4 separate regions of the Homo sapiens genome follow, and regions 1, 2 and 3 are each linked to region 4. Evidence: fine-mapped expression QTL. A gene starts in region 4. Each other region holds a variant in brackets. All regions are shown on one strand. Distances are from middle to middle. Region 1 overlaps LHPP (phospholysine phosphohistidine inorganic pyrophosphate phosphatase). Region 2 overlaps LHPP (phospholysine phosphohistidine inorganic pyrophosphate phosphatase). Region 3 overlaps LHPP (phospholysine phosphohistidine inorganic pyrophosphate phosphatase). Region 4 holds the start of LHPP (phospholysine phosphohistidine inorganic pyrophosphate phosphatase).

The links.
Region 1: its variant is fine-mapped to the expression of LHPP in hippocampus (GTEx, PIP 0.99). The same link has a PIP of 0.9 or more in substantia nigra.
Region 2: its variant is fine-mapped to the expression of LHPP in thyroid (GTEx, PIP above 0.99).
Region 3: its variant is fine-mapped to the expression of LHPP in monocytes after LPS (Fairfax 2014, PIP 0.95).

What each region holds. Positions count from the first base shown.
Region 1 is chr10:124,602,267-124,609,628 of GRCh38, reverse strand. All of the region lies in intron 6 of LHPP (phospholysine phosphohistidine inorganic pyrophosphate phosphatase), which reads right to left. Among named protein-coding and RNA genes, the nearest start is that of FAM53B-AS1, 98 kb to the left of the region's middle. RefSeq lists an enhancer at 2,788-3,732. The variant T/C (reference allele first, on the strand shown) is at 3,959.
Region 2 is chr10:124,496,066-124,503,427 of GRCh38, reverse strand. LHPP (phospholysine phosphohistidine inorganic pyrophosphate phosphatase) reads right to left here. Exons shown (of 7, transcript NM_022126.4): 4 at 6,404-6,467; 5 at 5,300-5,392. Among named protein-coding and RNA genes, the nearest start is that of LHPP, 38 kb to the right of the region's middle. RefSeq lists enhancers at 6,495-7,072, 7,073-7,362. The variant T/GGCCTCCCTGACGGGGCT (reference allele first, on the strand shown) is at 5,263.
Region 3 is chr10:124,487,475-124,494,836 of GRCh38, reverse strand. LHPP (phospholysine phosphohistidine inorganic pyrophosphate phosphatase) reads right to left here. Exons shown (of 7, transcript NM_022126.4): 3 at 6,262-6,415. It also overlaps the pseudogene RPS10P18. Among named protein-coding and RNA genes, the nearest start is that of LHPP, 29 kb to the right of the region's middle. The variant C/T (reference allele first, on the strand shown) is at 2,555.
Region 4 is chr10:124,458,272-124,465,633 of GRCh38, reverse strand. It overlaps LHPP (phospholysine phosphohistidine inorganic pyrophosphate phosphatase), which reads right to left and starts at 3,811. Exons shown (of 7, transcript NM_022126.4): 1 at 3,647-3,811. The coding sequence starts at 3,771. RefSeq lists enhancers at 954-1,454, 1,455-1,955 and a silencer at 3,472-3,931.

The DNA.
Region 1 (7,362 bases), 140 kb before region 4:
TGGGTGGGGCTAACATCCTATTCTTCACTTTTAGAGCACTTTACTAATGTTATACCTCAAAAATTTAATTAAAAAGCCACATATGGGCCGGGCGTGGTAGCTCACGCCTGTCATCCTAGCACTTTGGGAGGCTAAGGCAGGAGGATTGCTTGAGCCCAGGAGGTCAAGACCAGCCTGGGCAACATGGTGAAACCCTATCTCTACAAAAAAGTACAAAAATCAGCCAGGTGTAGTGGCAGGCGCCTGTAGTCCCAGCTACTTGGGAGGCTGAGGTGGGAGGATCACCTGAGCCTGGGAGGTTGAGGCTGTGGTGAGCCGTGATCACACCACTGCATTCCAACCTGGGTGACAGATGAGAGTCTCAAAAAGAAAGAGAAGCCACATATAATGCTCACAGTTGCTATTGTGTAGGCCAGAGGGCCAAATCCTACCTGCGGCCTGTCTTTATATTTTTAAAGGGGTGTAAAAAGAAGAGAGTAATATGCAAGAGAGACCAAATGGAAGCTGGCAGAGCCTGAAGTGGTAACGATTCGGCCCCTACAGGAAAGGCCTGGACCCCTGGGCTGGCCTGTCCACCGTCCCCCAGGGCTCTGGACAGGCCCCTTCTCAAGCTCTTACTCTTGGGAAGCCAGTGCTTCCACTCAAGTGCACCGCTGCTGCAGAGATGCGGCTGCTCTGGGCTGGGCAGGGTTGGCCCTGTCTTCCTGGGGCTGCCAGCCACACCTGGCTCCAGGCTGTGCAGACACACCCTGCCCTGGTACAGAATGAAAGGTGGGCAGGGGTCCAAGGTCCCCTTGAGGCTGCTGATGCTCTCCGGCTTACTCAGATCCCTCTTGGAGGACAGATGACAGGCTTCTCTCAGCAGCTCTACCTCTGAGACTGCTGGCCCTGGCCGAGGACACGGCAAGCTGGGTAGGCAGGTGGGTGGGGTGGGGGTCCCTCTGAGCGAGACAGAGACAAAACCAGAACGGCTGGCTAGCTCAGTAAATCAGCCCCCTGGCAAAACACCTCTCTGCCTCAGTTTCCTCATCTGTGCCATGAGGATAAAGCTGGCTCCGCCCCCTACCAGCCACGTGACCTCAGGCAACTTCCCTAAGCCCCTGTGCCTTGGTGTCCCTGCCTCTAGACCGAGGTCATAATAGCATGCACCATGGGCTCCCATGAGGAGGGCAGGAGCCAATATTCGTGGCAAGGACAGGTTGGTTGGCGCGGGTGTGGGCGCTGTTGTGGCTAAAATGGAAAACTCAGCAATCCTGTCCAGGGAATGCACCGTGGGCTGGGGCTGGGCTGGCCAGGGAGGTAGAGCATGACCGGCCTTGAGCCTTCCCCTGGGCACACAGGCTGGTGGGGGGCAGACAGGCAGACGGACGGACACACTGATGTGTGGGCTACATGGGGCACAGGGAGGACAGGGTGAGTGGGGAGGAAGCCCGGCACAGGCACTGGATCAGGAGGGTCAGAAAGGCTCCAAGCAGGACCCTAGGGGGCATACCAACAGCCTGGAGTCCCAGCAGACCTGGCACTAGGGAGGGTGCCTGCGGGAAGGACCAGTAGGCTCACTCCTACGCCGAGGCTCTGCCCCCTCCTGCCCTCTGCCCCTGCAACGCTTCTATTCCCTGGTCTCACCTCTGCCTGGCCTGTGTGCATGGGCCTGCATCAGCCCTGCCAGGCTGCCCTCAGCTCCCACTAGGGTCTGGGGAGATGAGCTCCAAAGCACTGCTCGCAGCCGCCACGTGTGCACCCAGCCCACGCTTACAAGGAGTCGGGGGCTGAGGCCGCGGCCCGGGTCTGACGTCCTCTCTGGTACCGCAGCCAGTTCCCATCTGATTTCCAACTTTTCTCCCCACAACAGTGAGAGGTTTGGGTTCCTTGTTGCCCGAAGCGGAACAAAAATTCTTCCAGCAAACACCGCCCATGATTCATCATCCGAGCCCCCGGGGGACTGGCCCCCAGGACCCCCTCCTTGGACACCTTCCCCAGGTGCCCTGGGGCCAGGCTTATTGTCCAGGCAAAAGCAACCAGCCCCGAGAGGGAACAAGAGGTCTCCCCATAGAAGATGACGCTTTGTAATGAGAATCCGGCCAGCCCCACTCCGCACGTGTACCTAGCCGAATGGCGTCCGTGGCTAATTATGTTTAATTACATATCATTTAAATTCAAGAATCCACTAAAAGAAAGGATTGCATTAGCACCCGGCCGGTGTTTGCCCACACGCAGCGGAAATCGTGGACTTTTATGTCTTAATTACGTGACGCTGCTGTGGGCTGTGTCTCCCAGGGAGCTGGGGTAGGCAGGAGGGGACCTGTTCCTGGCCTGGTGGCCCCAAAGCCCCTGAAGCAGCTCTGCTTTGTCCAATGGCCTGGGCAGGAGGAGTCCCTGCCCCACACTGGCCAGTGCCCTGTGACCTGTGGACCTCAGAGATGTCACGGTACAAAAGCTGAACCAAGAAACCCAGCAAAGGTGTGTCCTCGGCAGTGGGTACAGAGCGGAGAGGGTGAAGCAGGAGGGGCCGCAGACCATCCTGCCCGGAGTGGCCCTACTGGGACAGAGCTGGAGGAGGAGGAAGAGACAGACAGAGAGACACGGCCACACACGGAGGGAGGGAGGGCAGGGACAGGAAGAACCATGAGACAGGCAGAAACGGAAAAAGAGGATGAAGCAGAGAAAAGAGGGCAGAGAGAGGGCAGGCGAGTAGAGACAGACACATGGAGGGAGGGGACAGGCATGGGACACAGGAACAGGGGCAGGGGCCTGTAACAGGCAGGGAAGGGCTGGGGCTGCCCCCACGGTTCTGTGTCCTGGCCATGTGGGCCTGCGTTAAGCCCCTCCGCCCTTCCCTGGCTACGGGCCTGGCTGACGGCTCCCCGTGGGGGTCACAGCGCTGCTCCTCCCCCTGCCCCAGGCCCAGCCCAGGCCCCCAGACAGCTGAGCACCCTGCTCTGTCCCCAAAAAAGTGCATGGCCCAGGGCCGGTCTCTTCACCTGCCCGAGCCTCAGTTTCCTCATCTGTAAGGTAGCATAGGGCTTGGCTCTGGGGGCCACTCTGAAACGAAACAAAAGAGGCAAGACTGCACACGAAGTTGGCGTTTCCCCTGCACCTGGGGACCCTGCAGCTCACCCTGGCGCTGGCCCTGCCCCCTCCCACCTCCACCATCTGCCCTCCAGGGTTCACAGTCCAGTTCCACACTCACAGTTGTCAGCACTGCTGGGAAAGAAAGAAAAGGGCCTGGAGTCTGAGGGCACTGATGGGAGAGGGAGTGGGGCAGGACTGAGCGGGGCAGGGACGCTTCCGGAAACAGGGACGTTAAGGCTGAGCACTGCTCCCGTCCATCGTCCTTGCTGCTGTCCCCCCGAGAATGGTGTGGAGACACCAGGCCTTTGCTGGGTGGCTTCTTCACTAAGCCAGAGTGCCTGGCCCTCGGGGCCTGGCTGGGAGGTGGGAGCAGTGAGTGATTTCCCCAGGCGCCTGCGGGGCGGCTGCGGGTTCTCCTCTCCTCTCCTGGGGGCAGCCTCCCTCGGGCTGCATTTGGGCGTCTCTGGCTGAGGACCTGCTTCTGATGTGGGGTGGGCCCTCCAGGTACCTCCCCCATCCTTGCGCAGGAGCCTGCAGGGTGGGTCCTGCTGCCCGGGTTTCGGAGGTAGAAGCGGAGGCACACAGCTGGGAGGCATGTGGCTGCAGGACCAGGAGGCTGGCCTTAACCACCGGAACCCACAGGGTGACCCGGGCCCCTTGAAGGCAGGAGGTCTTCTGCTGAAGCCTGTTCCCTTCCCCTTCCCCCTCCCCCTCCACTGGCTCTCCCTCCTGCCTGGCCCCCTCTCCTCTTTTGCAGCCAGAGTGGCTTCCCTAAATGCTCAGCTGCTCCCGCCTCCCCTGTGTAAACTGCTGTGGCTCCCTATTGCCCACATCATAGCCTGGCTCCTCAGCATGGCAGATGAGTCCATCCTGACTGGGCCCCACC[T/C]GCGGACCTCCCTCGCCTCGCCAGCCACTCAGTGTCTGGGCTGCTGCTCTTCAGACATCCCAGCTCTCCCTGCCATTGCCCATGCTGTGCCCTGGAATGCTCTTGAAACCTGCTCCACCTGCAAACTCCTGTTCACGTTTCAAGACCCCACTCACCTGTCCCCATCTCCCACTGTATGCTCCTTCCACAGGGCGAGTTGCTCTCTCTTCTGAGCATGCAGAATGTGCCCTCCAACCACCCCATGCCATCAAAGCTGGGGGCTGCTCTGCCACTTCATCTGCAGGTGCCAGTGTTGACTTCGCTTCCTGGAGGGACAGGCCAGGTTTCCTGCCCTCGGTGGTCCCCCCCACAGGCCTGACCCAGAGCAGGCACCCAGGAAGTGCCCACCAAATGAATAAACAAAGGCCCCCAGCTGGGCAGGCCAGTGCCTGTCATCAGTGATTCCTCCCCCTCATGCTCTGTCAGCCGAATGCAGGGAACGGGTGAGTGAGAGGCAGAAAACAAGGCGGTTCTGTGCCTGGGGCCTGGCCAGCTTCACAGGGACAGTCTTTGTACCAATCGAAGGAAAATGGTGGCCAGGCCCCAGCAAAAGAGCCCCATGAGGCCAGTCTCCCTGCCGCCTCCTCCAGGGCACACGCAGGCCAGCACCGCCTCCTGGGGAACACTGACCAAGGGAGACGGGTGCGGCCTCTCCCCGAGGGGCTCTTGAGGGACCTGAGCTGCCCGGGACTCCCAGTCGGTGGCCCACCCGCCTCCTCTCTACCCTGCAGGGGCAGGGGAAGGGGCAGGGTGGGGCAGAGACTCTCACAACTGGAGGCCGCAACAGCTGCCTACCCAGGGAGGGGCAGGTATCCCTGTCCCCATTTGCTTTGGAAAGGCAGTGGCTGGGAGCCAGGTGCAGGGGGCGGCTGCCCAGTGAATTCAGGGATCTGGGCACTGGCATCAGAGGGTGACGCCAGCTCGGCTGTGCCGACAGACTTGCAGGACAAGGACAGAGGGTGATTCATGAGGTGGAGGTAGTGAGGCCGGGCAAGGGGCATCCTTCCATCAGAACCCCAGGAGCCCAAGACCCCCGGGGGCCTGGGGGGTTATTTCTAGAAGGGTGTTCACCAGAGCCTGACCCTGGCAAGTGCCTGGAGGATGCAGCTGGGAGGTCTGCCTCCACCTGCACACCCGCAGCTTCTCTGAAGGCTGCTTATCAGATGGTCTGCACCGGTACATCACACACACTAGGCCTGTGCCCATGGGGTTCCCTGCTGTCCACGTGCTGGCCCAGCACGGCCACCCTCAGGACAGCAGCTTGCTGGGGCCCAGTGAGGTGGGCAGAAGGCCCAGAACATCCCACATCCAGCCCGTGACCTGGCCTGAGCTGGGTCCCTGGCAGGTGCCCGAGGGTCGGTGGCCTCCTTACGGGGTAGCTGGGTGGCGGAGTGGAGATGGCCACAGATCTCAGGCAGGCTGCTCCGACCTCCGTCCCCTGGGTTCTGGAAGCAGGTCGGGGAATGACATGCCCAGACCCATGTACCTCTGGGAAGGTGCCATGTCGTGCTGCTTACAAAGAAACCCGAGCAGGAGCTCCTTCCCATGGAGCCTGTGCATCCAGCCAAGGCCTCCCAAGCCCCTCTTCTCCCAGGACCTGGGGGTCAAGAGGCACACAAAGGACTCTGACCTGGTCCCTGCCTGCAAAGAGCTCACATGGCACCTGAGCCCAGCACTCCAGCCCCAGGCCCGGGCCTTAGCAGCTGCCTGGGGGACACAGGCTCCAGCCTCAGCTACCTGTTCTCACTCAGGGATTGCTCAGCCCTCAGGCCCGTGTCCTCCCAGGCCAGCTCTGCCCACAGGCCTGGGGACTGCTGAGTCAACCTGGAGCCCCGGAGCCCAGCGTGGGGACCCTCCAGCCCAGGGCACCTCCTGCCATTGAAGCCAGCTGGGTCCTGGCACGAAGGGTGGCCTGGAGGGACCGGAGGGTCCAGGGCCACATCAGTGCCGAGGCGAGGGCCGCGAGGAGGCTCCCAGCTTGGAGACCCGCCCTCCCCTTGCCCAACCTGCTCACACATACAGGACCTTCTCGGGCGGCTTTGAAGTCACTTGGCAGAAAAAAAAAATCCAAACAAAAACCCAGGACTGAAGGAGTCCTCATCCTGGGCCTCTCTGGGTCCCTCACCTCTCTGGCCTGGGGACCAGAGCAGGGATGGGGACACACTTCCCCTGGCTGGGACCTCCCTTGGAGGTGCCAAGCTCCCTTTCCCACTGGCCCAGCTGAGAGCAGGAGCAGTGGCCCTGTCAGGTGCTTGTCCCCCATCCGTTTGGCCATCTGCTCCTCTGTAACAAGGAGGGGTGGGGAGGGAGGAGGTGACCCCTCCCCCTGAGCCCCTACACATGGAATGTGTGTGTGGATGAGAAAGCTGTGCACCCGGGCTGGGCCTGCCCAGCCCAAACCACCCGTGCCCGCCTTCCTCCCACGTGGGGTGAGCCAGACACCCACAGAGGCTGGGCATGAGCGCACTGCAGGTGTCCAGCTAGGCTGCCGCCCGCAGGCAGCACTACATACAAAGAGCCAGGGCAATGGTGAGGGGCCTGGATTCCCCAACTCTGTCCTGCCCTGGCCTGGCCCAGCCCCAGTACCCCTCCCAGGGACTGCAGCTGGCCACACCCCACCCTGCCCTGTCCCTCCCACCTGTCCAGGAGGCCTGACAAGGGTGTCTCAGAGCTAAGAGTGAGGTGGGGTCCTGTGCCCCCCAACCAAAAGAGACATCTTCCCTGTGTGCACATGTGTGGGCGGTTGCAACCCAGAAATAGGAGAGGGGCGCACTGCGTCTCCTGCCCCTCGGCCTTGGATCCTTACAGTCTCCTGGTGGTCTGGCCCCCATCTGGATCTGGATGTGTGAAGAGCTGGGGTGGGGCAGGGCTGGGCTAACTGAACCCCAATTTTCTTCCATTGGGGGGCAGGGCTGGGCTAACTGAACCCCCTTTCCTTCCAGTGGGTGGTGCCCAGGGCCCAGAGCCTGCCCCGGCTGACCTGTCCTCTGGCTAGTAAGGACAAAAGTCTCTCCTCGCAGAAGGAGGCACTCACTGAGCCAGTCCCCCAGGGCTCTGAGCCCTAGTGGGTAAACCGAGGCACAGGAAGGGATCTGCCCAAGGTCTCACACACCCCCAGGAGCCACAGACTCACTGGAAATAGGCCTGCCTGCTGCCCACAACCCAGAGCTCTCCACCAGCCAGTGGGCAGGCCCCGGGATGCAGGTGAGGCTCCTCTAGCTAGCAGACTTGTGGCCTCCAGGACATCAGCGATACCACAATGGGCCCACACCTCTGCAGTAAGCCAGCTGTGGGTGGCGTCTCTATGTGCTCTGCACAGCGCGCCATGGGGTGCGCACCATGATCTGCTTCTCTGAGATGAGGAG
Region 2 (7,362 bases), 38 kb before region 4:
GCTTCCCTGCACCATACTGGAAGAAGAAATGTCTTGGGCCACACATAAAATACACCAATGAAGGCCGGATGTGGTGGCTCATGCCTGTAATCCCAGCACTTTGGGAGGCCGAGGCGGGCGGATCACCTGAGATTGAGAGTTTGAGACCAGCCTGACCAACATGGAGAAACCCCGTCTCTACTAAAAACACAAAATTAGATGGGCGTGGTGGCACATGCCTGTAATCCCAGCTACTCAAGAGGCTGAGGCAGGAGAATTGCTTGAACCCAGGAGGAGGGGGTTGTGGTGAGCCCAGGCACCACTGCACTCCAGCCTGGGCAACAGGAGTGAAACTCTGTCTCAAAAAATAAAAAAATAAAAGAATTATCAAGAGATGCCAAAATTAGAACTAATGATCAGAAAGAGAATATTTACATAGTGTCAAAGAACTTTCCCACAAGATACTTATTAGGGTTGGATGCAGTGGCTCACGCTTGTAATCCCAGCACTTTGGGAGGCCAAGGCAGGCAGATCACCTGAGGTCAGGAGTTCAAGACAAGCCTGGCCAACATGGAGAAACCCTGTCTCTACTAAAAATACAAAAATTAGCCGGGCTTGGTGGCAGGTGCCTGTAATCCCAGCTACTCAGGAGGCTGAGGCAGGAGAATCACTTGAACCCAGGAGGTGGAGGAGGTTGCAGTGAGCTGAGATCATGCTATTGTACTCCAGCCTGGGTGACAGGATGAGATTCCTGCTCAAAAAAAAAAAAAAAAAAAAAAAAGGCTGGGCGTGGTGGCTCACGTCTGTAATCCCGGCACTTTGGGAGCCGAAGCGGGCAGATCACGAGGTCAGGAGATCGAGACCATCCTGGCTAACATGGTGAAGCCCCATCTCTACTAAAAATACAAAAACAAAAATTACTCAGGCATGGTGGCGGGCGCCTGCAGTCCCAGCTACTTGGGAGGCTGAGGCAGGAGAATGGCGTGAACCCAGGAGGCGGAGCTTGCAGTGAGCTGAGACAGCGCCACTGCACTCCAGCCTGGGTGACACAGCGAGACTCCGTCTCAAAAAAAAAAAGATAATTACTGAAAGGGACAAATAGCAATGACAGTAGAGAACTCTGGAAGACACCTCCTCAACAGGTGATCAGAGTTCACAGATAAAGGACACTAGGGTCATGACTGCTACATGCAACGTGTCCCCAGAAAGCCATGAGTGGGATGACTGGTGGTGTCTGAATAAGCTCTCTAGGTTAGCTAACCGCCTTGTGCCAGTGTTGATTTCCCGGTTTTATCACTGCTCGATGATGATGGGGAAGCTGCTGAACGGTACACGTGAACATTTTGTACTATGTTTGCAACTTTTTGTGAGTGTCAAGTTACTTCAAAATGAAAAGTTGAAAACAATTTTAAAGTGGTTATTAGTTGATAATTATTAAAGCACAGTGATGGGTACCTAGGAGTTCCCTGAGCTGCCCTCTCTACTGACATAGATATTTCAAATGTTCTATGATGGAGGGCTAAAAAGAGAGGCTCAGAAAACATAAAAACGACACACAAGTCACGGAGCTTCTTCAGATTGGATTCCAACAGATCAACGGTAAAAGAGCATTTCTGAGACAGTCAAGGAAATTTAAATATGGGTTGCTATTAAATAATACTAACAAAAATCACTGTTAATTTTTTAGGTGGTTTTAAAATGTTTATTGTGGTAAAATACACATTACATAAAATTTATGACCGTGACCAGAGTATTCAATTCACTGGCATCGAGCACATTCAGAACGTCGTGCCACCATCATCACTGTCCAGTTCCAGAATATTTTTCTTTTTTTTTTTTTTTTTTTTAAGACAGAGTCTGGCTCTGTCGCCCAGGCTGGAGCACAGTTGCACGATCTCGGCTCACTGCAATCTCCACCTCCTGGGTTCAAGCAATTCTCCCACCTCAGCCTCCCGAGTGGCTAGGATTATAGGTGCACACCACCACGTCTGGCTAATGTTTGTATTTTTAGTGGAGACGGGGTTTCACCATGTTGGCCAGGCTGATCTCGAACTCCTGACCTCAAGTGATTCACCCTCCTCAGCCTCCCAAAGTGCTGTGGTTACAGGTGTGAGCTGCTGTGCCCGGCCCAGTTCCAGAATATTTGTATCATCCCAAAAGGAGACCTCGTACCCTGAAGCTGCACTCCCCATTCCCCTGCACCCGACCCCTGCCAACCACTAATCTCCTTTCCATCTCTATGGATTTGCCCATTCTAGACATTTGCTATACATGGAAGAATACAATATGTGTCCTTTTGTGTTTGGCTTCCTTCACTTAGCATAATGCTACCAAGGTTCATCTACACTGTAGCATGTGTCAGAACTTCATTCCTCTTTATGGCTGAATAATATTCCACTGTATGGACATACCACATTTGGTTATCCTTTCATCAGTTGATGGGCAGGTATCTTGGCTTTTTTTACCTTTTGGCTATTGTGTATGGAGCTGCTATGAATATCTGTGTACAAGTTTTTGTTTGAACACGTGTTTCAGTTCTTCTGGGTATAGACCTGGAAATGGGTTGCTGAGTCATACGGCAAATTCTATGTTTAACTTTGAGGAACCACCAAGTGGCTTTCCGTGGCAGCATTGTCATTTCACCTTCCCAGCAGCAATAGAGAAGGGTTCCAATTTCTCTACATCCTTGCCAACACTTGTTATTTTCTATTTTTTTTTTTAACTATACAGTCATCTTAGTGTGAAGTGGTATCTCACTGGAGTTTTGATCTGCATTTCCTGATGAATGATGATATTGAGTATCTTTTTGTATGCCTGTTGGCCATGTTAGGAGTTTTAATGTATTGTATTTACATCCAAAAATCGTGATTTTTAAATGTCATGCTACAACATGAAAGGATACAATTGAGATTTGCTTTAAAATATGAAGCAAAAAAATAAGTAAATTTATTATTATCATTACTATTACTATTACTTGGAAATAGAGTCTCACTCTGTCGCCCAGGCTGGAATGCAGTGGCACAATTTCGGCTCACTGCAACCTCCACCTCCTGGGCTCAAGCAATTCTCCTGCCTCAGCCTCCTGAGTAGCTGGGATTACAGGTGCATACCACCACACCCGGCTAATTTTTATATTTTAGTAGAGACGGGGTTTCACCATGTTGGCCAGGCTGGTCTTGAACTCCTGACCTCAGGTGATCCACCTGCCTCAGCCTCCCAAAGTGCTGGGATTACAGGCGTGGGCCACCACACCCAGCCAGTAAATTTTTTAAAAGGAAAAAAAAGAGGATAGAAGAAAGGAATGTGGCAAAATCTTAACCACTGAAGCTGGATGATGGATATAATGGGGTGTCTGTATCATTCTCTCTACTTTTCTGTATGTTTGAAATCTCTAATAAAAAAAGAAATTCTGCCCTATGAAGCAAGGTAGTAAAAAGCCAGGTTATTTATTGCTGCAGTTCTCACTCATTCAAAACACAAACCTTTCCTTCTCAACAGACTAATGTGACATTTCCCAGGTGTTTTCTGGGGACTCCAGACAGCCTGCATCTTCTGACATCTCTATGGATCTCAGGGCAGGTGCAGGTGCAGTGTCTAGATTTTGGCAGCTTTGGGCCATCTTTCTCAAAGCACCATGAGGCACCAGTGTTCTGGACCGAAATGCACACAGGGGAAACATGCACCAGGCTTGACACCTGAGGGACCCCCAACCCATGCTTCTGCTGCCCACTTCTGAGGAGGCAGCAGGACAGCCTGGGGCAGCTGTGGACTCTGTTTCTTTTTTCTTTTTTTTAAAGAAGGAGTCTCACTCTATCACCCAGGTGGAGTGCAGTGGCATGATCTCGGCTCGCTGCAACTTCTGCCTCCCAGGTTCAAGCAATTCTCATCCCTCAGCTTCCCAAGTAGCTGGGATTACCAGGCATGCACCACCTCGCCCAGCTAATTTTTTTTGTTTTTCTGTATTTTTAGTAGAGATGGGGTTTCATCACATTGGCCAGGCTGGTCTCAAACTCCTGACCTCAAGTGATCCACCTGCCTCAGCCTCCCAAAGTGTTGGGACTACAGGCGTCAGCCTCCATGCCGGCTGCCCACTATTCCTTACAATCTTTCAGAAAACCTGCTGGAGGGGGCTGTGTGTTGGTGGCTCATGCCTGTAATCCCAGCACTTTGGGAGGCCGAGGCAGGAGGACGGCTTGAGCTAGGAGTTTAAAACCAGCCTGGGCAACATGGCAAAACCCCATCTCTATGGAAAATACAAAAGTTAGCCGGGGCTGGGCATGGTGGCTCACACCTGTAATCCCAGCACTTTGAGAGGCCAAGGCGGGCAGATAACCTGAGGTCAGGAATTTGAGACCAGCCTGGCCAACATGGTGAAACCCTGTCTCTACTAAAAATAAAAAATTAGCTGGTGTGGTGGTGCACACCTGTAGTCCCAGCTCATCAGGAGGCTGAGGCAGAAGAATTGCTTGAACCCAGGAGGTGGAGGTTGCAGTGAGCCGAGACAGCGCCACTGCACTCCAGCCTGGGTGACAGAGTGAGACTCTGTCTCAAAAAAAAAAAAAAAAAGTTTGCCAGGCGTGGTGGCATATACCTGTAGTCCCAGCTACTCAGTTGGGGTTGGCGGGGGGGGGGCCTGGTTAGTAAGGGGGTTAAGGGGGCACTGAGATGGCAGGATCGCTTGAGCCTGGGAGGTCCAGGCTGCAGTGAGCCATGACTGTGCCACTACACTGCACTCTAGCCAGGGTGACAAATGGAGACATTGGCTCAAAAAAAAAAAAAAAAAAAAAAGAAAAAGAAAAGAAAACCCACTGGAGGACGAAGCCAGACTCACTTAGGGTTGGGGTAGGTGTAGACAATAAAATCATAACCGATTCTTTTTCCTTTCTAAAATTTGGAAGTTTGAAAGGCAATCTATCCCAAAATAGTCAAAATATAAAGGTCGCAAAATGAGTGACTTTATTATTTCCTCCATATTGTTGTAATCTTGCTGTTACACTGTCTTGCCAGTGAGATATATTAACACACTGATAGGACTTGTCAATTCTTATCCTTTCAGAGAAGCAGCAAAAACTCAGGAAAAGCCGCAGGCATTTCTGCTTCTTGCTTTCATACTGAAAGTAACTTCACGGTTGAAACTATTCAGTGGATTTCGTTTGCTGTCTTCCCCCTCCTTCCCAGCCAGGTCAGCTTTCACAGGGAGCCCACGCTTGGCTGCCTGGCCAACCCCACAGGCTGCCTGAGTCCTGTAATCCATTCCAAGCTCCAGGGCCTCCCTGACGGGGC[T/GGCCTCCCTGACGGGGCT]GCCTCCCCTGACCCACTTCACAAGGCGCCAACCTACCTGGTGGGCTTCCACTCCTATCGCTTGCAGGGCAGACTTGAAAAACTCAGGAGAAGGCTTCCCCACCACCTCGGCTTTGATGCCACAGGCATACTGGGAAAAGAGAGAGGGACATGGCATAAGTTTGGGATCAAGGAACAGGTGTATGCCCAGCCACGGAAACACTGTCCCAAATGTGCCCCCAAGAGTCAAGGGCCTTGAAGAAGCAGGATGCTGTGGGCCTGAGAACTCATCTCACAGGCAGGAGCCTCACAACTCCAGAAAGGGCTGCCCGGGTCACTCAGGTCCCCTAGCACCAGGCACCCTGCCATCCACTCAAAGGCCTACCCACAGCAGAAGGCATCCAAGAGCTGGCAAAACTACAGGGCTCCCAAGGGCCAGCAGAGCAGTGCTCTGCTCACTCGCCTGCAATTCCGTCCTCTCATCCCTTCTCCCCCTCTTCTCCCCTGCCCACTCGCAGCTCATCACAGGGCTCCATCTGCTCGTCTGCCTCTCCCTCCCACCTGACGGCAGGCAGGCAGGAGGGGCTGCAGCTGTGAGGATGGGACGGGATGTGAGGCTGACCTGGGGCAGCTAATGGGACCTGGGCCAGAGTGGACCCAGGGGAGCCCCACCCGGAGGCCTGGCCACAGATGGCCTTGGAAACTGAAGGGGAAGTCAGGAAGGAGGCCAGTGAGGACCCGTCAAGCTTGAGGTGCTGCAGATGCCCAGGGTCAGGAATGAGAGCGGTGGTCAGCACTGATACAGAAGCCACAAGCCCGAGAGGAGTGTGGCAGAGAGCAGCTGGGAGAGCGGCAGGGTCCACGGCGGGCAGGGGGGGCTGCGCCCACTGGAGGATGGGGAGGATGGGGAGGATGGGGAGGATGGGGAGGATGGGGAGGATGGGAAGGATGGGAAGGGAGAGATGGGGAGGGAGGAGGACAGCTGAGGGCCTGAGGGCCCGAGGGCCCGGCCAGGGGAGCCCAGAATAGGAAGGCAGCCTTTGTGGAAGCCCAAAAGGCCATTTGTACGTTAATTAAGCACAGCCTCTTCTCAACAAAGACCCAAAAAGTCCCAGGTGCCCTGAGGTCTGAAGAGAGTTTGGGACAGAACCAGGGCTGGTACCTCAAGCGCCTTCATGTAGGGACCAACGTCCAGCATCAGGCCAGAGGTCTCCTTGTAGTAACGCCTAGGAGAGAGCAGAACGGAGCACGGGATGCTGAGCACGGGGAGCTGACCGCAGGATGCTAAGTATCGGGAGCTGAGCACCGGGCCTGTCCCGCTGGCTGCAGAGCCAAGCCGCGGCTGAGGGGCAGTCCAGGCGCTACGCTGAGAATGACCGCAGGGGACCAGCACCACAGAGCCGGGCGGCAGGCCGCCACACCCAGTGGGGCGAGCGCAGCAGCCAGCAGCTCCAGGGATGCCACAGGTCGCACAGAACGCAACCCTGCTGTCAGACTCGTGGGGACCCTGCTGCAATGATTAACAGGGGACCCAGAAGGCAGACGGTTTCAGTTGCTAACACAGAGAATGACAAGTGACCTGTGTCCTGGGAAGGAACAGCAGGTCCACGGGGTATGTGGCGAACCCCTAATTGCTAATAATTAACCCCTAATTGCTGGCTGAAGAAGAGAACTCCATTAGTTCCACAGCACCCTGCCGCATCCCGTTAGCCGGAGGTCAAGCGAGGTGCCAGGTTTCATGGGCGCCAGATGCTTTTATGAGAAGACAACTGTTCCTTCCCGTCTCATGGAGGTGGAGACAGGCTCTGCACGAGGGAGCATTCCTCTCTCAAAATGGCCTCACTGCTCTTTGAGCCCAGGGCTGGCTTGGTGGCTGGCTGCAGCCCGGCCAGGCTCACCCTACGATCGCGTCACACTGAGCCTCAAGGCACTCACAGTCCAGACACATGGTGGGCCAGACCTGGCTCTGGCTGAACTAAGCCAATTGACTACAATGAGGCGAGAAAGTGGTTTAACCTGCGCTGCTCTGAAGACGCAGTTCATTGAAAGCCAAGAATACACAAGGGGGCTTGATTCTTGGAACCACTAAAATGTTTTGCCATCCACCATCACATCAGTTTC
Region 3 (7,362 bases), 29 kb before region 4:
CACAGTCTGGTGGGGAAGCAAAGAAGCCCACAGACAAACTTTAAAGGGCAGGACCCAGGGGAGGGGCAGTCTGCTTGAACAGGGCGGGGGACAGGCTGGGTTCAGGGAGGCAGCAGAGGCATGGAAAGCTGAGACCTGAGCTAAAAGGAAGTGAAGGGGAGGTCCGGGTCCAGGGAGCACCTTGGAATCCACTGAGCACCCTGCTGAGGACCAGGGTGGCCACGCCACCACAGGCAAGGCCCTCTGCAGGCCCTCAAAGGCCATGACCCTCGTCCCCTCCTGCCCACCTGTGCCAGGAGAAGGAGGGCATCGAGGTGGGTAGGGAGGGCCTCCCTAATGAAGTGATGTGTGGAAGTAAGCCAGGACGGAGGAAAGAATATACCCCACACAGGAAATGCTTACCCAGCAACAAAAGAAAACCTGAAATCAACAAAACTACTCCATTGCGACAGGTACAGCTCTGTTTGGAGCTGAGGATTCTGGGGGCTTCTGGGCCCAGACCCCTGTCCCTCAGCTACCCTGGGGCCGGCTGGAGGAGCTAGAGGTTGGGTGGACGGGAGCAAGCACCTCCCATCATCTGGCAAAACCTCCTAAGGGGACCCACGCGGCGCCACTTCCTCTGGCCTCAAGTTCCCTGCAGCCTCTTCGAAAGCGAAAGAAACCTGGATTTTCTTATGTTTAAATTTAGTCCTGGATGGGATTTTAAAAAAACTGAACGTGCAACTGAAAATACACAATCAAAACCTTGTCTTTGCATGCTAATCTTTAGAGTCCAAGGAGAACACGAACTTCCAGAAATCAAAATGAGAAACTTTAACGTTTATTTTTTAAAAAACTGAATCTGGGCTTGATTTTATAGTGCCCAGAATTTTTCTTTATTCCTTATTCATTCAGAAAAACAAAAAGGCATCTTGAGGCCAACTGTTACCTGGAAACATTTTTTAGAGACAGAGCAAATATAAGCACTTAAAATTTTTTTTTAATATAAAGGCCCGGTAATCTCCACACACTAGAGATGCGACGTATTTCTCCTGTTACTGGTTACTGGTTTAACCCAGCCAACGGCAGCCCCACTTAGGACGTGAATGTTCTAGCCACAAAGAGGAACCCGTGGATGCTGGAAAGAAAGGGGGAAGCCCGGGAGGAGGAGTCAGATGCGATTTTATGCTTTATTCTTCTGCCGTTTCAGATTATTCAGCACAGCCTCCCTGCAAATGACCACTTGACCTTTCCCAGAAGAGCCGTTAACCTTCCATAGTCTGTCGGGTAAACAGCTTAATTTTCTGAGAGCGGCATGACAGAAGAAATTACAAAGCCAATTCCCACTCTGGGGTCCAAACAGATGCCAAATGTAAATCACTCCATTTCCAGGAGAGGGACAGTCTGCCCCGGCGCCTCCACCCGCTGCTCCTGCCTCCTTGGTGGGCACCGCTCAGCCTGTGCCCCTGTGTCCCGCAGTGCAGGATGGACCTCACCAGCAGTGACCCACAGCCGAGGACGGCATGGTGATGGCAGCTCTCGGGGGGTCCTCAGGCTGTCCTGAGAAGCTGGGACCTAGTCCCTAAAACCGCCGGTTCCTTTCTCTGGTTTTTAAACACCCAGAACCCCCATCAGCAGAGACGCCACTAATCTCCTACTTTAAAAAAACCCTTGTCTACTATGACATTTGCTGCGGTATTACAAAGCTGAAAGCGACTGCTTCCGGTTTTTTTTTTTCTTTTTCAACAATATACCTGTTCTGACTATTATTATCCATGATCTGGAATAGTGGTTTTTAATAATTATGAGACAACTTTTTTTCTTTTCTTTTTTGTAGAGACGGAATCTTACTATGCTGCCCAGGCTGGTCTCGAACCTCTGAGCTCAAGCCATCCTCTCATCTCAGCCTCCCAAAGTGCTGGGATTATAGGCGTGTGCCACGAAGCTCAGCATGAGACATCTTTAAAGAAAAAAGTGTTAACATTAACGAATTACAGCAGAGCTTCTTCATTATGCTTGTTCTCTAGTGAGGTGTTGGTGACTCAAAGGCCTAATGGGTCAGCCCGGGTAAATGAGTTAAGAGGCCAGGTTCTGTGGCTTGCTCCATAGCAGCGACCTAAATTGCAATGGGTGTAAGTTTAAAAAGGGACTACAAGGGTTAATTTAATATGTCAACTTGGCTGGGCCACGGTGCCCAGATATGTGGTCAAACATTATTCTGGATGTTTCTGTGAAGGTGTTTTTGGATGAGATTAACATTTAAATCGGTGAACTAGGAGGAGAGTACATTCCCTTCCGCAATGTGGGTGGACCACATCCAACCAGTTGCAGGCTTTACAAGAACAAAGACTGACCTTCCCCGAGCAAGAATCCCACCAGCACACAGCCTTACGACTCTGCTGCGCGCATTCCTGAGTCCCTAGCCTGCCAGCCCTGCCCTGCAGATTTTGGACTCGCCAAGCCTCCACAATCTCTCTACATATCTATATCCTGTAGCTTCGGGCTTCTCTGAGGAACCCTGACTACATACAGGACACATTTTATTTATATGAGAAACATACTAGAAATTTTTTGT[C/T]ACTAAAAAAATCTTTTCATTTCTTGAAACATCTTTCACTTGTCCATTTTTGATAGAGACACAGCGTGAAGAAGTACTTCTCTACTTTGAAAAAAACAACAAATGGCACACGATCAATGACAACTAACTCTGTGGTCTGGAGACAGGGACGACAGGGAGGAGTGGGGTCTGCAGTAAATTCAAACTAATGGAGGCAGTGGCTCCAGCTATGGCTGCTGTGTGTGCAGGAATGTGAGGCTCCGTATTGTCAGATCTTCTGATTCTTCAAAAGAATCCAGAAATCTGGATATTTTGTGTAAAATATCCCCATTTTTAAACACAGCCTCAAAAATACATTTAAGGTTTTGTTGTTTTTTTCGAGATGGAGTCTTGCTCTGTCGCCCAGGCTAGAGTGCAATGGCGCAGTCTTGACTTACTGCAACCTCTGCCTCCCAGGTTCAAGCAATTCTCATGCGTCAGCCTCCCGAGTAGCTGGGACTATAGGCACGCACCACCACACCTGGCTAATTTTTGTATTTTTAGTAGAGACAGGGTTTCACCATGTTGGCCAGCCTGGTCTTGAACCCCTGGCCTCAGGTGATCTGCCCACCTTGTCCTCCCAAAGTGCTGGGATTACCGGCGTGAGCCACTGTCCCCAGCCCACATTTAAGGCTTGTGTGGGCAAAAAGTCTGCTCTAGAATGTAGCTTAGAGGTAACACGCACAGGGTCTGGGGTCAGCCACACCAACTGGCACTCCTGATCCTATCAGCACTCAATGGCTGGGGGACAGCAGCTTATTTCATCTCCTGTGGCTTCAACAACCCCACTTGCAAAACAGCAATGACCTGCCTAGATCCCACAAGGTTGTAGTCAGAATTACACAAAACGGGGTACACAAAGTGTGTGGCAGTGGCCAATGGCCAGATAAAAAGTCCCTCCCTGTCGGTTCCATCAGCTGGTCCCGTACAGCAAGCAGAGGCAGTGAGCGCTGTCACCAGAAGCAACGAAAGCACCGAAGATGGAAAACACTTCCTCCGCCACCGCCTCGGAATTCCCACACTTCATGAGATGCTGAGGTAGACACTCCAAAGTGTCCTTGCAACCCTGGGAGCCTGTGATTCTAGAATTCTAGCTGTGTAGAACCCTGTGATTCTAGAATTCTAGCTGTGCAGAACCCTGTGATTCTAGAATTCTAGCTGTGCAGAACCCTGTGATTCCAAAACTCTAGGCTGTGCAGAACCCTGTGATTCCAGAACTCTAGGCTGTGCAGAACCCTGTGATTCTAGAATTCTAGCTGTGCAGAACCCTGTGATTCCAGAACTCTAGGCTGTGCAGAACCCTGTGATTCCAGAACTCTAGGTTGTGCAGAACCCTGTGATTCTAGAATTCTAGCTGTGCAGAACCCTGTGATTCTAGAATTCTAGCTGTGCAGAACCCTGTGATTCCAGAACTCTAGGTTGTGCAGAACCCTGTGATTCTAGAATTCTAGGCTGTGCAGAATAAGTCTGTGCAGCTTTCTGGAAACAACTTGGCAACATGCCTCAAGAACCTCAAAAATACTCGTTCTGTAACTGTATCTGGAGACGTCATCCGAAATGCACCAAGATGCTCATCACAGCCCTGGTATGGTGAAAAACCAGGAACAATCTAGATGCCATCAGCAGAGATCAGTTAGAAAAAAATCATGCTTTCCAGCCCCGGACCTGGACCCTACAGCTGCAGAGATGTTGATGCCTAAGAAGAACCAGATTGCTATTTATGAACTCCTTTTTAAGGAGGGAGTCACGGTAGCCAAGAAGAATGTCCACCTGCCTAAGACCCGGAGCTGGCAGATGAGAATGTGCCCAACCTTCACGTCATGAAGGCCAGGCAGTCTCTCAGGTCCTGAGGTTGCAGGAAGGAGTTTGCCTGGAGACATTTCTACTGGTACCTCACCCACATGGGGATCCAGAATCTCTGCGATTACCACCATCTGCCCCTGGAGAGCGTGTCTGCTACCCCATGCCACAGCGGTCTGGAGACTGGCAGGCTGCGGCCTAAAGGTCTGGAGCGTGACCGACCTGCAAGACCCACAAGTGGGGAAGCCAACAGAGACACCCACAGACAGGGAGAGATACCCACAGACGAGGAGAGACACCCACAGACAGAGACACTCACAGGGACACTCACAGAGAGACACCCACAGACAGAGACAACCACAGACAGAGACACTCACAAAGAGAGACACCCAAAGACAGAGATGGACACCCACAGATGGGAGAGATACCCACAGACAGAGAGAGATACCCACAGATGGCGAAAGACACCCACAGACAGAGAGAGACACCCACAGACAGACAGCCATAGAGAGAAAGAGACACCCACAGATGGAGTGCTGTCCCCCTGGTGCCAGTGAGAAAGCTGAGGCTGGGAATGGGTCAGCAACCGAATTTCAGTTTACAGGCGTATTTGGTCGTGGACATGGTCAGCCACCTCAGTAAAACTGGTGAGGGTTATTTTGCATTGAATAAACTTATAAGCAGAAAAAAAAAAAAAGAAAAAAATTACAAGAGGTTGGGGGCGGTGGCTCATGCCTGTAATCCCAGCACTTTGGGAGGCCAAGGCGGGCGGATCACAAGGTCAGGAGATTGAGACCATCCTGGCCAACATGGTGAAACCCCGCCTCTACCAAAAATATAAAAATTAGCTGGGATGGTGGCGGGCGCCTGTAGTCCCAGCTACTCAGGAGGCTGAGGCAGGAGAATCGCTTGAACCCGGGAGGGAGAGGTTGCAGCGAGCCGAGATCACGCCGCTGCACTCCAGCCTGGGTGACAGAGCGAGACTCAGTCTTAAAAAATATATATATATACAAGATAGCCACACCATAGATAACCATGCCCCAAGACATATCCATTTGCTGCATGCTAAGTCAGTCACAAATATTGTTTGGTGAACAATAAAAAACAGATGACAAAACAAGGTCAAGTGTGACATCGATGCTGTGAACATCTCCATCCATAATAGTCTATTCGCACAGGAAGCCACTTGCAAGGACATACACCAAAATAGGGACAGGTGTTTTCCTCGTGCAGTGGGACTAAAAATACTTTCTGGTTTCTTCTTTTGCTCATCTGTATTGTCTAATTTTTCTTCAATGAACATGTGCTATCTCAGTGTAAGAAAAATGTTAAAAATAACCAACACTGTTTTGTTTAAGAAAGAGATGGCAAGGCATGTGCTAAAGGCTCAGACAAAACACTGATCACAAAATCACAACTTCACAGAGACAGTGATCTGTGGCCAGAGACTGTCGGTGCCCAGACTGGGTAGGCCCTCAAGCCTATGTTTTACTAATTAGACAACCCTTGAGAGCATTCTCCAACACCCTGCTACATCCTATGCAAATGCACCTTCTCCTTCTTTGCTCTAAACTTGGGACAATCAACACTTGGCCTCTGAGATCTCCAGAGGGTCTCCCTCTGCAATGACGCCCTCTTCTAGTCTAGACTCCACATGGAAGCTTGATCAACCAGCTCCTGAAGACAGTGTTCCTATTTCCTAAAGAAATGATTAAAGGAGAGGAATAAAGAAATGAAGAGAGAAAGCATGAAAAAGGGAGGGAAAAGAAGATCACCGGTGCTCCTCCCACCTCCCCTTCTGCATCCTTCTCTGCCTGATTCCGCAAGTTGGAGACTGGCACAGCATCATCTAAAGCACCGAGAAATGACTCTCCCTGGAGCCAACTTACCCTTTTCCCAGTGATATGAGCACAGGTTTTTCCAGCTCCATGAGCACCTGGAAGGCGTTATTCATGTTTTGATAAGAAAAGCTTTCTCCTGCGTCTGCAATTACCACACAGTTTGGGTTGGATGTGTCGATCTGATCAAATTCTGAGCGGACTCCTGGAAAGAGAGAGAGAGACAGAGTGCCACGGAGCCCTGGGAGGACATGGCCTACCTCCCCATCTCCTACCAGGGACACCTTTCACATGTCCTCCCCCTTTCTCAGATGCATTTCTTTCTGATCATCACAGCTGCCATGGGAGGTAGACACAGAAGGGTTATTCCTATTTGACAGAGGAGGGAATTCGGCTCCTCAGAGAGGGCTTATGAGGAGAAAGGTGGACACACCCAGGACCCTCCATCCCAATACCACATCAGCCCCAGGAGCTCCCTGAGGTCACTATCGCAGGCAGGAAACCCACAGCTTTGCTACTGAGAAGGGAAATCTGCTCAGAAGACACTGAGAGCCTGCAGCAGGAGGAAATGGGGCTGCACAAGCCTTGGAGGGTTGGCACTACTGGTCCCAAACTGTAAGAACCGTTGACACATTTCAGGCAACCCCACACATATGTCCTGAAGAAAAAGCAGAATTCCATCCCCACAGGTCCAGTTCACCAGCTCCCTTAGGAAACTCTCTTCCTCCTTCTCCTTCTTTGTCTTCCCCCATTTTAAATTAAAATAGGAAAATTTGCAAGGATACATCAAATCATTGGATCTGTGTTTTCAGATCCTAGAAGAAACATGCTGTCATCTCTCTTAGGACTAGATGTTGACCTTTCTAAATTGAAAAGAAACTGAGGCCAGGTGCGGTGGCTCATGCCTGTAATCCCAGCACTTTGGGAGGTCAAGGTGGGCGGATCGCCTGAGTTCAGGAGTTCGAGACCAGCCTGGCCAACATGGTCAAAATCCCATCTCTACTAAAAATACAACAATCAGCCCGGCACGGTGGCGGCCGCCTGTAATCTCAGCTACTCAGGAGTCTGAGGCAGTAGAATCACTTGAACCCGAGAGGCAGAGGTTGCAGTGGGCTGAGATTGCACCACTGTATTCCAGCCTGGGCAACAGAG
Region 4 (7,362 bases):
GCCGAGATCACACACCTCTTATTTGAGTAAGGCGGAGCCTCTCTCACTTCCTCTTCCATGACCTGTTTGCATCTTTTGCTCATATTGCTATTGGGCTGCTTGTTCGTTGTTTTTGCTTTCTAGATTTCAAGGCCTGGATGTAAAGGCCTTCTCTCCAAGGTTTCAAAGGAAATCTCCCTTGCTTTCATTTGACTTGTATGTCTCACTTTTTACATTTGTATTTCTTTAAAACATATAAATCAGACCACATGATATGCCTATCTAGAGTCTTCACTGACTTCCTGCCACTCAGGATAAAGTCCGGACACCTCTCCGTGCCCCTCAAGTTCCTGCCTGGTGTACCCACTCCCCCACCCCACGCCCTCGAACTCGCCAAGTGCTCTCTTCCTGAGGTCTTTGCAGCTACCATTCCTTCTGCCTGGAATGCGCTTCCTCCGCCTCTTCCTGCAGACAGTTCCCTCTTATCCCTCCGGGTCTGTCCAGTGCCTTCTCCTCAGAGCTGTCCCGACCCCCTCTCTAGCACAGGCCACCCTCGTCCATCACACTCTCAGTACCCTCCCGTCTTCACACCCCTTAGGCCTACCTGTGATGATGCGCTTTACCCGTGTGCCCACCTGTGAGGATGATTTACCTGTGTGCCTGCAGCTTTACTGTCCCTCTCCCCTCCACACATCAGACCCTAATACTCCCCTACTGATGGGTATCTGAGCTGTTTCCAGTCTTTTGCTATTTAAAAGGTACTGCCAGGAATGACCTTGTACTCATGTCATTTCTCACGCATGAGACAAGGACAAATTCTCAGAAGTGGAACCACTGGTAGATAATGTCAAATGTATCTTCCGCAAGCAATGAGTGGCAGGGTCTCCCATGAGGCCTTGCCTGCCCCAGTCACAGCATTGAGCTCTGGCTTCCTGCTCCCCAGATGAGGCCCACTTCACCCCAAAACACTGCCCAGAGCCCTCTGCTGGATTCCCACCAGTGCCACTCACAGAATGCTCTCATCTGTGACTGAGCTAGTCTAAAGCTTTGGAGTAATGGAGAATAAGGTCAGGAATGCACTTAACCCTGAACTTCAGCCAACACTGAGAGCAGACCCAGGACCCAGCGGAGTGTCCTAGGTCTGGGCTGCCCTTTGTGCTTGCTCCTGGAAGCCAAGTCTCCCTGTTCCCAGTTCCCAGCCTCCCAAACACCTCCGGCTTCACTATGCGGGACCGTTTGGGTCCCTATTATCTCAGCAGCTCCCAGACATCAGACATGCAGATTGGTAGAATGGGGTCTCTAAGAAGGACCAAGAGACTCAGTTAATTGCCACCTACAGATAGGTATATTGAGTCCCAGTGACATCAGGCTACCAAGCCAGGGTGCCTCAGCTAGTGACTCCGGGAGGCCAAGTCCTGGCAGTTAGCCCTTCCCGGCTGCCTATCAACACATGGCAGTGCTGACCTGGGATGCCAACAGGAGGCCTTACAAAGCCCAGGTCCAGTGGTGCCAACCATGCTACTGAAAGTGTCCTTCTGGCTGGCCACAGTGGCTCACACCTCTAATCCCAGAACTCTGGGAGCTGAGGCAGGCAGATCACTTCAGCCCAGGAGTTCAAGACCGGCCTGGGCAACATGGCAAAACCCCATCTCTACAAAAAACACAAAAAAATTAGCTGGGCATGGTGGCACGTGCCTGTAGTTCCAGCTACTTGGGAGGCTGAGGTGGGAGGATCTCTTGAGCCCTTGAGGTAGAGGTTGCAGTGAGATTGAACCACTGCACTCCAGCCTGGGTGGCAAAGTAAGACCTTGTCTCAAAAAAAAAAAAAAAAAAAGAAAAAAAAATTAGGCCAGGTGTGGTGGCTCATGCCTGTAATCCTAGCACTTTGGGAGACCAAGGCAGGAGGACTGCCTGAGCCAAGGAGTTCAAGACCACCCTGGCAACATAATGAGACCTTGTCTCAAAAAAAAAAATTATACAAAGAAAAGTGTCAGCCAGGTGCGGTGGCTCACGCCTGTAATCCCAGCACTTTAGAAGGCCCAGGCAGGTGGATCAGTTGAGGTCAGGAGTTCGAGACCAGCCTAGCCAGTATGGTGAAACCCCATGTCTACCAAAAATACAAAAATTAGCTGGGCGTGGTGGCGGGTGCCTGTAATCCCAGATACTTGGGAGGCTGAGGCAGGAGAATCACTTGAACCTGGGAGGCAGAGGTTGCAGTGAGCCCAGATGGCGCCACTGCACTCCGGCCTGGGCAACAAGAGCAAAACTGTCTCAAAAAAAAAAAAGTGTCCTCATGGTCAAGTCTTGGCTGGCACGATGTTCTCTTCCTCCTCCTCTCACCTAAACCAATGCAGTCCAACAGAATTATAATGAGAGCCACAAAGGTAATTTAAAGTTTTCTAATAAGCACATTAACAAAAGTTAAAAAAAAAAGGTATACTTAATTTCAAATATTTTAACCTAAAACAGTATATTAAAAATATTATCAACTGGGCATGTGGCTCACGCCTATAATCCCAGCACTTTGGGAGGCCGAGGCAGGTGGATCACCTGAGGTCAGGAGTTAGAGACCAGCCTGCCCAACATGGTGAAACCCCGTCTCTACTAAAAATACAAAAAATTAGCCGGGTGTGGTGGCACATGCCTGTAATTCCAGCTATTCAGGAGGCTGAGGCAGGAGAATCGCTTGAACCTGGGAGGCGGCGGTTGCAGTCAGCAGAGATTGCACCACTGCATTCCAGCCTGGGCAACAAGAGCAAAACTCCGTCTCAAACAAAACAAATAAAAAAAGTAACTGGGCATGATGGCGGGTGCCTGTAATCCCAGCTACTCGGGAGCCTGAAGGGGGAGAATCACTTGCACCCGGGAGGCGGAGGTTGCAGTGAGCCGAGATCGTGCCATTGCACTCCAGCCTGGGCGACAGAGCAAGACTCCATCTGAAAAGAACAAAACAAAACAAACAAAAAGTATATCATTTCAACAGGCAAACAACATAACCCATTTTCATGTTTTTATTTTACATTTTACTCACGAAGTCTGGTGTTTTTGGGGGTTTTGTTTATGAGACCGTCTCGCTCTGCAGTCCAGGCTAGAGTACAGTGGGGTGATCACAGCTCACTGTAGCCTTGACCTCCTGGGCTCAAGCGATCCTCCTGCCTCAGCCTCCCAAGTGGCTGGGCCTACAGGCGTGCACCACCACACCCGGCTAATTTTTAAATTTTTGGCAGAGACGGGGTCTCCCTATGTTGCCCAGGGTGGTCTCCAACCCCCTAGCCTCAAGCGATCCTCCCTCCTCTGCCTCTGCAAGTGCTAGAATCACAGATGCGAGCCACCGCGCCCGGCTAAGTCTTGTTAATCGGTATGCATTTTACGCTTACAGCACATCTCAATTCAGACTGGCCGCAGGTCAAGCGCTCAGCAGCGCACGTACCAGGTGGCCGCCCTGTCTGACCGCGCAGCCCTAACCAGCAGAGTCCTGGTGCTCGCCGGGGGCAACAGTGGGGTCGTCCGTGGTCAGCACTGTGCGCGCACCGGGGTGGGAAGGGGGAGACCGAGGCGGGGCCTGCGCCGCGGCCCCGCCCCCTGCCGCCCCGCCCCCTGCCGGCAGCCAGGGAGCGGGCTGAGCTTAGAGCTCGGCGGCCCCAGCGGCGTCCCGGGGCCCACTCACCTGGCCACCGCCTCCACCGAGCCGGCGATGGCCGTGCCGCCGCCCGCGCCGCTGTCGTACAGCACGCCCGAGATGTCAAGCAGCACCCCGCGCACGCCAGCCAGCCGCTTGCCCCACGGTGCCATGGCGCCCGGCCCTGCTCCTCAGCTCCGCGTCCCAACCGACGCCGGCGCCGGCGCCGCGGCCGCGCAGGGGCGCCTGGGAACTGTAGTCCCGCGGGCGGGGCAGGGCAAGAAGACCGGGTGCAAACCCGGAACTGGGGCGCGGCCTGGGCACCCCGGCGTCACTCGCCCCTGAAACGGTGTCCTTTTCGGAAGCTTTCTTCCCAGGAGATCAGCGGACAAAGAGCAGGAAAAGCAGAAAACAAGTCCCTAAGAAAGGTCAAAGGCAAATTGAGACAAGAAGGCACCTGTAGCCAGGGGCGGTGGTTCACGCCTGCAATCCCAGCACTTTGGGAGGCAGAAGCGGGCGGACAGCTTGTGCCCAGGAGTTCTAGACCAACCTAGTCAACATAGTGAGACCCTGTCTCTATTAAAGAAAGAAAGAAAAAGTACAATACAAAATTGAGGCCGGGCGTAGTGGCTTATGCCTGTAATCCCAGCACTTTGGGAGGCTGAGGCGGGTGGATCGCTTGAGATCAGGAGTTCGAGACCAGCCTGGTCAACATGGTGAAACCCCTGTCTCTACTAAAAATACAAAAATCACCTAGGTGTGGTGGCGCATGCCTGTAGTCCCAGCTACTCGGTAGGCTGAGGCGGAAGAACCGCTTGAACCTGGGAGGCGGAGGTTGCAGTGAGCCGAGATTGCACCACTGCACTCCAGCCGGGGCGACAGAGCAAGACTTTGTCTTAAAAAAAAAAAAAATTATATGCAGATAACAGCCCTGCATAGATGAGGATGCATAGGACCTGGGCTGAGAAGAAAACGGGACTATCACAATGCGTTAAACCCAGGAGGTTTTTGGATAAGCTATAAAATACCACTCGATGCTACATTATTTTTGCAATAAATACACATTGATATTAAAAGGGAGGAGTTTCCTCAATGGCCCCTCGGAACCTTTCAAGTTATTAAATAGAAACGAGAACACTTTACTTCTGGTCCAACATAGCTTTGAGCTTTCAAAGAAGAGAGGATCATATTATTTCACCATTTCTTTTCAGGCTCTTGATTCACAGAAAGGATGAGGAATTCGTTGAAATGTTATGGGGTTCAATGAATTGTGTATATTTTGTTGACATGCTTACTAGGGGAGCTGTTTACAAGTGAAATAAAATACAGTTCCTACCCTTTGGGATTTCCACTAATGGGGTTGGGGAGTAGTATACCTTATATAAGGGTTCTTAGTCGCAGACAATAGACACCACTCCAGCTAGAGGGGTTTTGTTTACATGAGGTGAAGGAGCTTACAGATGACGGGTCTAAGTCCTACACAGCCAGGAGCCATGCAGCCACGAGAAACACTTAATTTTACTACTCCATTGGGACCACTGCCCCATCACTTAGTGCAGCCCCCAGCATAGCTGCCCCCAAAAGAACAAAACATATCCACCACTGTGCCCTCCACCTGTGGCCACCCACTCACTTTCACTGTGTCTGGCTTGGTGGAACCTAGCCCACGCTGCAAAGGAGTCTGGGAAATGCAGTTTTTAGTGTTCCAGGGGCTGAGTGAGTCAGTTTGGAGAATCTGCTAGGAACATCATGAACCGTACACGTATTGAGACCCTACTCTGTGCAGTGGGCACAAAAAAGTTCTAGGGTGTGATCCTTGCCTTCCAGGATCAAGACTGGGCAGAGAACAATGGAAGACCTTCACGACTGCTGACCAAATGTGTGCCAAGTGGCAATGAGTGACACAGACACAGTCAAGAGGATGACCTCTGCAGGCCTAGGAGGGCAGCTGTGGCTTCTGGGCAGGGGCAGCCTGAAATGGACCTTGGAGAATGGCTGGGCTTTAGCTTCATGCCAAGGAGGAGGAAAAGGGGTGCTTCTGCCAGTGGTGTGAGCCTACCCATAGTTGTTTCTTTTCAGTCAGCTCTGTGGGTACTCTTGGGCAAGTCCCTTTTCATTTCTACGACTACAGTAGACAGAATAGTGCCCCCTTGAGATGTCCACCTCCCAATCCCCACAACCTCTAAATATATTACCTGACATGGCAAAAGGGACTTAGATCTTGCAGAGCCTATGCTCCTGTAGGGAGATTATCCTGGATGGTCCAGGTGGGCCCAGTATAATGACATGAGTCCTCATAAGGGAAAGAGGGAAGCAGGAGAGAGTCAGAGTCAGAGAAGGAGGTGTGACAGCAGAAGCAGAGGTCAGAGAGAGAGGTGTGAAGATACCGTGCTACTGGCCTTGAATACAAAGGGGCCATGAGCCAAGAAATGCAGGTGGCCTCTGGAAGCTAAAAAAGGCAAAGAATTGGATTCTCCCCTAGAGCCTCCAGAAGGAATGCAGCCCTGCTGGTACTTCAAGTTTAGGACTTCTTACCTCCAGAACTATAATAATAAATCTGTTGTTTTAAGCCACTAAGTATATGGTAATTTCTTGCAGTAGTGACAAGAAACAAATACAGGGATCCAGGTCCCTCACCTGAAAAATGTGGCAAGTCTCTAAGTGTGGGCCACTGATAGGCTAAAACTTGATCTGAAAATTCCAGGCTTTTCTTGGGATGCAATGAGTGTAGGGCATTGTCTATGTTAGGGTTGCATTTGGCTACATGTAACAGAAACCCAGCCATAGTTGCCCAACCAAATCAGATTTTACTTTTCCTCATATATCAAGAAGCCAAGAGGGAGGAAATCCTGGATGGGACAACAGCTCCCAGGACCATCAGGCTGCCTCCTGCTTTCTGCTCCACCACTCTCTCAGCATGTGGCCTGCTCCTCACGCTAGCAAGATTCCTGCTCCACCCGAGGCATCATGACTGCATTTCAGGCAGGAAGGAGGGGAAAGAAAAGAAAAAAGGGCATGTGACAGCTGAGTCTGACCCTTTATACCCAGAAAGCAAAAGCTTTCCCAGAACCCTGATCCAATGGACTCTCATTTGCATCTTTTGGGCCAGAGCTAGCCAGGTGGCACATGAACACCATAGTGTGCCAGGAAGCATACACCACTGACTGAGCTTTCAGCCTGTTATAGCAAATCTACAACTCATGTCTGAATTTCAGCTCAACTATGAATCTATCAACCATCTATTGCTATACTAGACATATGCCTCATCCTTTCAGATTTGCTTGTCATAGTCAGGACTCTTCGGCTGCCAGTGACAGAAGCCAAATTTCAAATGGCTTCAATTTAAAGGAATTTATTGGCTCGCACAACCAGATAGTCTAGCAATGGACAGCGTCAGGCATGGCTGGTTATCAGCTCTGGGCTCACAGAGTCTCCGGTACACCACCTGGTGAGGATCCTTTTCCTCAACTTGGTCTGGCTGTTCCAGAAAGAACTCTGATTGGCTCTCTTGGGTCAGTGTCCCCCATTGTCTGTGTTCCAATGGAAGTGATACTGTGATGTTCCAGCCTGACTGGTGCCCTTACCAGGGCTGGAGGTGGGACACTTGCCTATAGTCCCACCATGACCAGAAGGAAAGGGAGAGGACAAGCCCTCCAGCAAAAAGCAGGGCGCATTAGCCGGACGTGGCAGCACATACGTGAAGTCCCAGCTACTCCAAAGGCTGGGGCAAGAAGATCACTTGAAGCTGGGCGTGGTGGCTCACG